Linked DNA regions of Homo sapiens: region 2 is linked to region 1. The links come from fine-mapping of genetic effects on gene expression. A gene starts in region 1. The other region holds a variant in brackets. All regions are shown on one strand. Distances are between the middles of the regions.

Region 1 (4,400 bases):
ACGGGGCCACTGACTGTGGCTATTCGTGCACCATGGCACTAACATTTTATAAAGTGAGAGACTGTATGAAAAATAACATGACTTAATTAGAGATATTAGCAATGAAGTTTTAAAGTGCTTCAAAGTTACATGATTGTAGCAAGAGGAGTAAAGGAAAGGGGTCAGAGAGGGGTAAAAAAAAAGCATTACAACATACAACTACCTGAAAAAGTAATAGTACACAGACAGGTTAAAACACGTTTACAGTTACTAACAGTTGCCAACACATAGTTACCACACTATATACTTGTCAGATTTCCCAACATGCAAAACAAAAAGGAGCCACCCCTGTATGAAGCACTTATCTACTGACTTCTACAGAGAACACATAACTTTTCTGGAAAGCGAGAAATTAAACTTACTGTGCTCTCCTTTTGGCTTTCAAAAATCTTTAAAACTTTCAGCAAATTAAGGTTCTCCTCAATTTCAAGGCTTTTCATGTTAAGTTGAATAAAAGTTGCCTATTTTTAATATCGATAAACTACGAGATCACTTTTATATTTGCAAACCATATCCACATCCCTACTAGATTTTTAAAAGTTTTTCGAAGGGCTAAATATAAAGTTTGCACAAAGTGATACAGTAGATGTGGCAGGCATTCAACAAGTTCACTTATCAGGAGAATTCCTAAAGTGAAAGCTTGAAAAAAAAATTGTGAAGATAAATTCCGAGTAGTGCTACTGAAGATACAATGTTACTAACATGAAAACTGAGAAATATTCAAAACATTCTGAAAACAGCATCTCCCTCTAAAAATAAAGAGGGGAAGCATTTGCCAACACAGAAACATCGGTTCTTAAAAATTATAATCACATGGGAGACATTTCTATAAACAATTTAGTTCTGAATTGCAATAACCCTAACCTTTCAAAGCACGTTTTGGCCTTGCCTTACCAAAAGCAAGAGCATTCCTGGTGCCTTTATATTTATACAAAGGACTGTGCTACTTTGTTTCTAGCGCAAACTGTTGGTTTACACAGTTAAAGATCTTCAAAACAAACTACCACACACAATTCACTTCCAATCATCCAAAGAGAAACGAACAAACAAGCATCTGTCACAAAGTCCCAAGAGTTTTCTAATTTACAATAACAGATATTTTTACGTTGTAGTTCAGAGGCTACCTCTGTTCGTTTCTGTATTTGGATTCACATACTATACATTTACTTAGCTTGTTAAGAGAGAAACCTCAGAAAATAAGCAACCGGCGATGACACCAGTCTATTTTAAGTTACTTATGAAGCCTACAGCTCAAGAACTTTTGGGAGAAGGGAGGGTAAGCCGTTTTTCCAAGGAGTTAAGAACAATTCGTGTTTGATAATTAATGATAGCAGCCCTAACAACCTCTTAGAATACATTATGGTGGGGCGGAAGTGAAAACGATGAGAGGGGGAAAAAAATAAAAAAAACCCGACTTGAAAATGGACAAGCAGACAGATTTACAAACCTTCAATTAAAGGAATTTTAAGATGAACTTCTCTCAAACGCCCTCCCTCACTCCCCACACCCGCTTCCTCCTCTCCTCCGGGAGGTCGGTGTAATGTGACTCATGACAAATTTTTTTTAAATAAATAAATAAATAAAAGACACACCCTCTGGGGGCTGAAACTGACATAATCGCCCCCACCCCACCCTCCGCCGACACACAACACACACCCCGCTGGTCCTCTCCCTTCTGCGGCTTCAGCCTCGTCCCTGCCCTCTCCTCTCCCCTCTCCCGTCCTGGACCTCCTCTCCCGGCGCAGAGAGGCGGCGCGGCGGCAGCTCGGGGGTATTCCGGGACTCCAGCCCTGCGGACTGGAGGCTACCTGGGGGGCGCGCGACCCCGGTGGCCGGGCCCTGGGGGAAGCGGACGCGAGGGGGGCGCCGGGCTGCGGCAGCGGCGGGCTCCCGGCTCCCTCGCCCATTTTCTCTCTCCCCTTCTATCGGTTTCCACCACCACAGCCACTTCCTGTATCGCAGCCCGACTCCCTCAGCCCGGCCACTCGCTCTGTCCCCGGTTGGGGCTGGGGTTGGGGCTGCGGTAGGGGCTCGGGTTGGTGGCAGCCGCTGAGGTCAGGGCAGTTCCCCACCCCGCCCAGTGGGCTGGTCACTCCGGCGGGTCCTCGACCCGGCCAGCGCCCGCCGGCCGCCAGAGCGCCTCACCTGTATGTAGTTGTTTTCACAGTAGTCTGCCACCCGAGTCAGGTTCTGGTAACTCTCGATCAGCGCCCTCTTGCCAGACGGGATCTCCTCCTCTAGTAACATCTGCAGCTCTGCCATTTTCCACCCCTCTGCATCGCTTCCTCTCGCGTTAAAGAGACAGAGGCAGCAAGGTCCGCCGAGGCTCCGAGCACCTCACAGCCCGGATACAAACCGCCTACCCGCCCTCCCGCCTGGTATTGTGGGACGGCACCTCCTCCCCTTCCTCCTCACTCTCTCCAGCCCCCCTCCACCCCCTTCGTGCAGCCGCCTGAACCTCGTTCTCTCGCGAGCGTTTATTTCTCCCACCCCCACGGACCGCGGGATTTTTTTTTTCTTTCGCACTGTCTTCTGGGAATTGTAGTCTCTCCTAGGCTAGGCGGCCCGTCCAAAGCGCATGCGCCCAGACACCTCCGAAAACCAACGCGGCAGAGCGCAGAAAGCGGAGACCGAGGGTGGAGGGAGGGGGCGGTGTTGGGGGGAAGTCCGGAGTTTCCTCACAGCTCCGGAAGGTGGCGCCACAGGGTGATACTGGGGGAATGAAATCGGTTCCCCAAGTTTCATGTGAAACTTGGCAGAACTTGGTTAATTAGGAAATGTCAGTGAATCAAGGACACCCATTCAGAGAAGGATTAAAAAGGGGACAGAGTACGGAAAACTAGATTTTTACTTCCTCTGCCTTCTTAGAAATAAAGCGAGTCAGGCTTTACTTTCTGAAGTTCCGCCCCCATCAATTCATTTAAAATTTAGCAAACATTTCTTGATTGCCAGCTGTTTACCAAGCAGCGTACTAGACACTGGGGGTACAAGTTGAGTACGAATACTCCGTACCCTTAAAGACTCAATTATAAAATAAACATACATAGCTTGTAGTGCTTTCCTGTCCTAATTTCTCTTTTCTCTGACTCTCCTTATCATGTAATCTTCCTACACTTTTAAGGTCATGTGCACGTTTTTTTAGGGGTGGGAGTTGTTTGCTTGTTTGAGACAGGATCTCACTGTTACCCAGCCTGGAGTACAGGGGCACAATCATGGGTCTCTGCAGCCTAGACCTCCTAAAGTCAAGCGATCCTCCTGCCTCAGCCTCCAGAGTAACTGGGACTACAAGCGTCGGTCACTACACCTGGCTGAGCTTTTTAATTTTTTATAGCGACAGGGATCAAATTATGTTGCCCTCGCTCGTCTCGAACCCCTGGCCTCAAGCAATCCTTCTGCCTCAACCTCCCAAACTGCTAGGATTACAATCATGAGCCACCCACCCTGATCCTTCGTTTTTTGCTCCTGGATTTTTGTTTTGTTTTGTTTTTATCACCTGCTTTGGAATAGTCTCAAAAGGCCCTATATTTCAAGCTCTTCACTTCAACAGGAACATTAAATGCTTCGGATATAATCAGCTATGAAAAGTGTTGTCCAAAGACTTTGGACATATGTTCATGTATCTCCATAAAGTCATTTAGAATCAAAATAACTAGGAGTAAAAACATCACTCAACCAAATTAAAAATTGCCAGCACCAGGTATTTATTGAATATTGCCTTTACTGGGGCCTTATTCAGGGCCCCAGGGAACCAGTTTCCCTCTTCGACCTCTGAAAGGAAAAACTCAGTTTCCTACTAAAAACGTTAACTTCCCCTTGCCACCAGATTCTCCATCAAGGAATCTATCAAAAGATAACTATTATACCTATTCCAGATATTATGGAAAGTAATACATTTATTATCTGGAATAGGTGTAATAGTTATCTTTTGATATTTATCGTTAACCCAAACACGACTTAATCCAAGTTATTAAAATTTAATGTATTATTGATCTTGGTCTCTACTTGAGGTTTAACTGTAGAAATCACTCAGTTTGTATATATTCAAATATTGACACATTTCAACAACATTGGGGAAGTGATTAGGGAGGTGATACTAATTTACTATTTTCAACGTACTGTCCATGCAGTTGAGCAATGAATGAATAATAATGATGATGATGATAAATACAAATAAAAAGTACTGTCAGATTTCTTCTCACAACTCTGAGAGACAGATAATATAAATATTATTTTCCTTCCTTATCAAATAAGGAAATTTAAGCTTAGATAGGTTAAGGAGTTTAGCTAAGGGCACTGAAAATGCCGTCAAGTTTCCTAGGTTACTGATTGATATGGTTTGGATCTGCATCCCTGCCAAATCT
Region 2 (4,400 bases), 55 kb before region 1:
AATACTAAATTATTACACAAATTCTAATCTACGTTATCCTTTTCAATTTCCCAAATTTTGACTTTTTCAGGAAACAGGCAGGCAAAAATGTTTAGTGATCACATTAAGTCATCTGTTTAACATTCTGAACCAAATAATTGATAATTGAAATTTTACACTAGAGTGTATCCATTCTGCTTCAAAATGGAGAATCTTTCTAAAAATAAAATTGACATCGTGCCCTATTTGCAAAGAACTACAGATTTTCTAAAGTGACACACTGAAAATTTAAGAGACTTGAGGATCAACTCCTTGCCAGGCCCTATTGAAGATACTAGGGATACAGTGATATACAAAACAGATAAGGTTCCTGTCATCATTAAACTTAACCTCAAAAGAAAGAATAGCCATTAAATAAGTACGCATACAAATAAACATAATTACAAACCTGGTATGTAGTACAAAGGATGAAGTAAAAAAAAATTCTGCTATGTAGTACAAAGGATGAAATAAAAAAAAAAAATTCTATTATATTAAGAACAAATATAATTGATGACTCTGCAAAAGCAATGTCCAGGGAGTGGAAGGAAACAAAGTCAAATACAATAGATCGGCTGGGTGTGGTGGCTCATGTCTGTAATCCCAGCACTTTGGGAGGCTGAGGCAAGCAGATCACCTGGGGTCAGGACTTTGAGACCAGCTTGGCCAACATGGCAAAACCCTGTCTTTACTAAAACTACAAAAATTAGCCAGTCGTCGTGGTGCATGTCTGTAGTCCCAGCTACTTGGGAGGCTGAGGCACAAGAATCTCTTGAACCCGGGAGACAGAGGTTGCAGTGAGCTTAGATCGCACCACTGCACTCCAGCCTGGGTGACAGAGCAAGGCTCTATTTAAAAAAAAAAAAAAAAATCACAATGGATTGAGGCATACATATGTTTGAAGGAAGAAGCTGCCAGGAAACAGCAGATTCAAGAACTTGGTTGTAAACTGACAACAGAGAAAGGCAATATATCAAAAGGCATGGTTAGGAAAACTTAAGATGGGAAGACATACACATGTTAAATGTTTATTCGAAGTGGGAACACAAGAGAGATTGAATATAAGAGAAAAAAGGGATGACAGATATGATGACTAATAATGCCAACACTATGTAAAGGTAAATGCTTTATAAGCAATTCCTTATTTAATCTCCAAGGTTAGCACTATTGTCCAAATTCTGCATATGAGATAACTAAACTCAAAAAGGTAGGTAGGAAAAATCACACAGTGACAGAACATGGCTTCAAACACAGGTCTTTATGACTCCAAAATACACCACACTGTCTTATTCTTTCCATATCCTTATCAAACTATGTAAATGCCAGTTACTATGTAATAAAGATACAGAGATGAATAAAACATGGTCCTTATCTTTAAAGAGTAAGGTAAGGAACACAAACATATACCCAAAAATCAATGTAAAAGAAGGAATAAGTTAGAAGGTATAAAACAAAGAGAGGGCCAGTAACTCTATCCTGAGCTGATTAGTGAAGACCTCAGACGGTGTTCCTATTAGGCAGAACAGAAACAGGACAAACTGAATTCCAGGTAAGACAAACACATAATTGGAAAAACAAAGACGCACAAATTTACAGCTGTGTCTGCAACACTTCAAGAAGCTGGGCATGGCAGAAATAGGAGAGTTGAAGAGACCACATCAATGAGACTTTTATGCCATGCTATGGTATCTGAACTATAGGAAGTAAAAATCCATTTCCAGACTTTAAAGCAAGATTAGGCTACTGTGAAGACTCAGACTTCAGAGGTCTGAGCAGTAGCCTGGTGAGTGAACGGCTTACAGACAACCAAAAGAACATGAAATTTGGAAGGAGACTCCCAAACTAGCTGTTTATACTCAAGCTCAAGGACAGTTCCAAAGTCACTTTTTATTTAAAAAAAAAAAAAAAAGGTAGTTTTTATTCTAAGGTTAATGAGAACACTCCGTTGTCATATTTTAGGACACAACAAAGAAATGGTTTCACCCACACTTTGTGATCAACAGGGAGGGACTGAAGATTTGCTTCCTTAACCCCACAAATACAGATTATTTGAGGCAGAATGCAGGCTTAGGTGATTCATTTCTCCAAAAAGCATATTGAACAGAAGCAGGATTGCCAGCTGTTTACCCTAAAAGCAAAGAACAGAGTCTCCAATTTCCAAAAGATACTGCCTTTCCTTTGATTCAGGGCATATCACGTCAGTCTGCCATCTGATGGTTCAGGAAGACTGATGCTTATTTCTGCTAAGCATATTGCTCTGACTCAGGAGCTGT[G/GT]TAATTCCAGCACCCAGCAGATACAAGAAGCAGAGAAGAAGCCAAAGGATACCAGCTACTCCCCTAGCACAACACAATTAGCCTCAGCAATGAAACCAAATCAAAGGAAAATAAGCTATAATTTAGAACTTTAGGTTTTTGCAAATTGATCTCCAGGTACTTTCCTCATTGCAGAAATCATACCCTACATTCTAATCACCCTGAAAAAACCATGCATGTCTTTCTCTAATGCCATTACCTCAGACTGGAATGCATCTATACTCCGTATCAACATGATAAATGAACAGGCTTCCTTTAAGACCCAATTCAACTGTTATTCCTTCAAGCCATGCTGTAAAACCAGCTCATTCAATCTTCATTCTACCCTCCTGATCCTTGCCCCAAGAATATCTGCTTGCACTGCAGAAGCTAAAAAGCTAAAATCAACATTGTCCAGTTGTTCTCACCACCAGGCTTCTGGATACAATTTCTGATCTATCAATAAAATACTTTCATGGGATTTGGAAACTGAAAGTGAAGTGGAGATCTCTTATTACCACTTTACATTTCCTATTGGCAAAGTAAGTCAAGAAATAAGGTTTTTTTCCAAATTGATGCTCCAGTGTCCATTCTCCAACTGTTTGGATGTTTACAGGCAACCGCACTGGAAACAACAGCTGGACTCCAAGTTCAATGCCCAGTCACCAGGTTTGTGGGTGTCAAGAGGCAGTTGAGGCAGCAACAATGGCAGCAGCTTTCTAAGCCATGGCCTGAAACCCTTGCATAACGTTCTTAAACTCAGTAATTCCTGTGGCACCATCAGTGGTTATAGCTTCCCCAGCAGATCAGTTTTTGAGTTCTGGAACTTATTTGTGGAGAGTAAATTTATATTTAAGATAGTTAGAATGGTTTCTATCTCCTGGTCCTTGAATCATATACACCAAACAAGTTAACACCTTACAGGGGAAGCAGCACACCAAGAAGGAAAGAAAATGAGTAATATCAGTGCAAGAGGCTAACAAACTGGTAAGTGCCAGTTAGACCTTAGATACATGAGAAAAACAATGAATTAGACTAGAATCAGTATCCTAAAATTCCCTTTGACTACAAAAAGTTTTAAGTCCCTGAATCCACAAGTTGTCACACATAAGAAATCATCATTTGTCCAACATGCATGTAATTGCAAGTTTTATCTCAATTGATTATCTTTTTTTCTTGAATATTGGCCATGTTTTCATGGTTCTTCCTAAGTATGGTAATTTTAGATTACATTTTATATGTGGTAAATGATACCTTACAGAAACTCTAGATTCTGCTATAGTCCTTTAAAAAATGTTTTGATTTTCAAGGGCAGAAAAATTAAAAAGATAAAGAAGTAGAAAAGAAAAAACAAACAAAAAATGTTTACAGTAGGCCAGGCACAGTGGCTCACGCCTGTAATCCCAGCACTTTTGGAGGCAGAAGGTGGTGGATCGCTTGAGCCCGGGAATTCGACACAGGTCTGGGCAACATGGTGAAACCCCATCTCTACAAAAAATACGAAAAATTAGCCAGGTGTGGTGGTGCATGCCTGTAGTCCCAGCTACTTGGGAGGCTGAGGTGGGAGGAGGAGGCTTCACCTGAGCCTAGGAAGACAAGGCTGCAGTGAACCATAATCACACCACTGCATTCCAGCTTGGGCGACAAGAGTGAGACCCGGCCTCAAAAAAAAAAGTTGATACTAAACTTAGCTTGACTTAAATCGCAAACTTTCTCCTCCAAGATGGGCAGCAGCTGAAATCTTTGTTCAGTTCTTTTATCCTTGGCTGAGTTGCATGCAGTTCGCTCCACACACAGCTCAGCCTGTAATACAGGCAAAGTTTTAACACAAAATTTGGGGCTCTTTCCCTTCAGGTCTCTCTTTCCACTCACTTTCCAGCTGTTGTGGTCACCATGAACTCTGCCCTCTGGGTCACAAGCTATATGCAGTTTCCTAACTGAGTTTTAGCTGTCTAGCATGGTGCAAAACTAGCTACAAAAATAGCAAACCCAGCCGGGCATGGTGGCTCACGTTTGTAATCCCAGCACTTTGGGAGGCCAAGGTGGATGGATCACTTGAGGTCAGGAGTTGGAGGCCAGCCTGGCCAAAAT

Evidence for each region.
Region 2: its variant is fine-mapped to the expression of ABI1 in whole blood (TOPMed, PIP 0.90).

The regions. Positions count from the first base shown.
Region 1 is chr10:26,858,563-26,862,962 of GRCh38, forward strand. ABI1 (abl interactor 1) reads right to left here and starts at 2,396. Exons shown (of 11, transcript NM_001012750.3): 1 at 2,185-2,396. The coding sequence starts at 2,301. RefSeq lists silencers at 1,769-1,918, 2,029-2,118 and an enhancer at 2,439-2,638.
Region 2 is chr10:26,803,510-26,807,909 of GRCh38, forward strand. All of the region lies in intron 2 of ABI1 (abl interactor 1), which reads right to left. Among named protein-coding and RNA genes, the nearest start is that of ABI1, 55 kb to the right of the region's middle. The variant G/GT (reference allele first, on the strand shown) is at 2,292.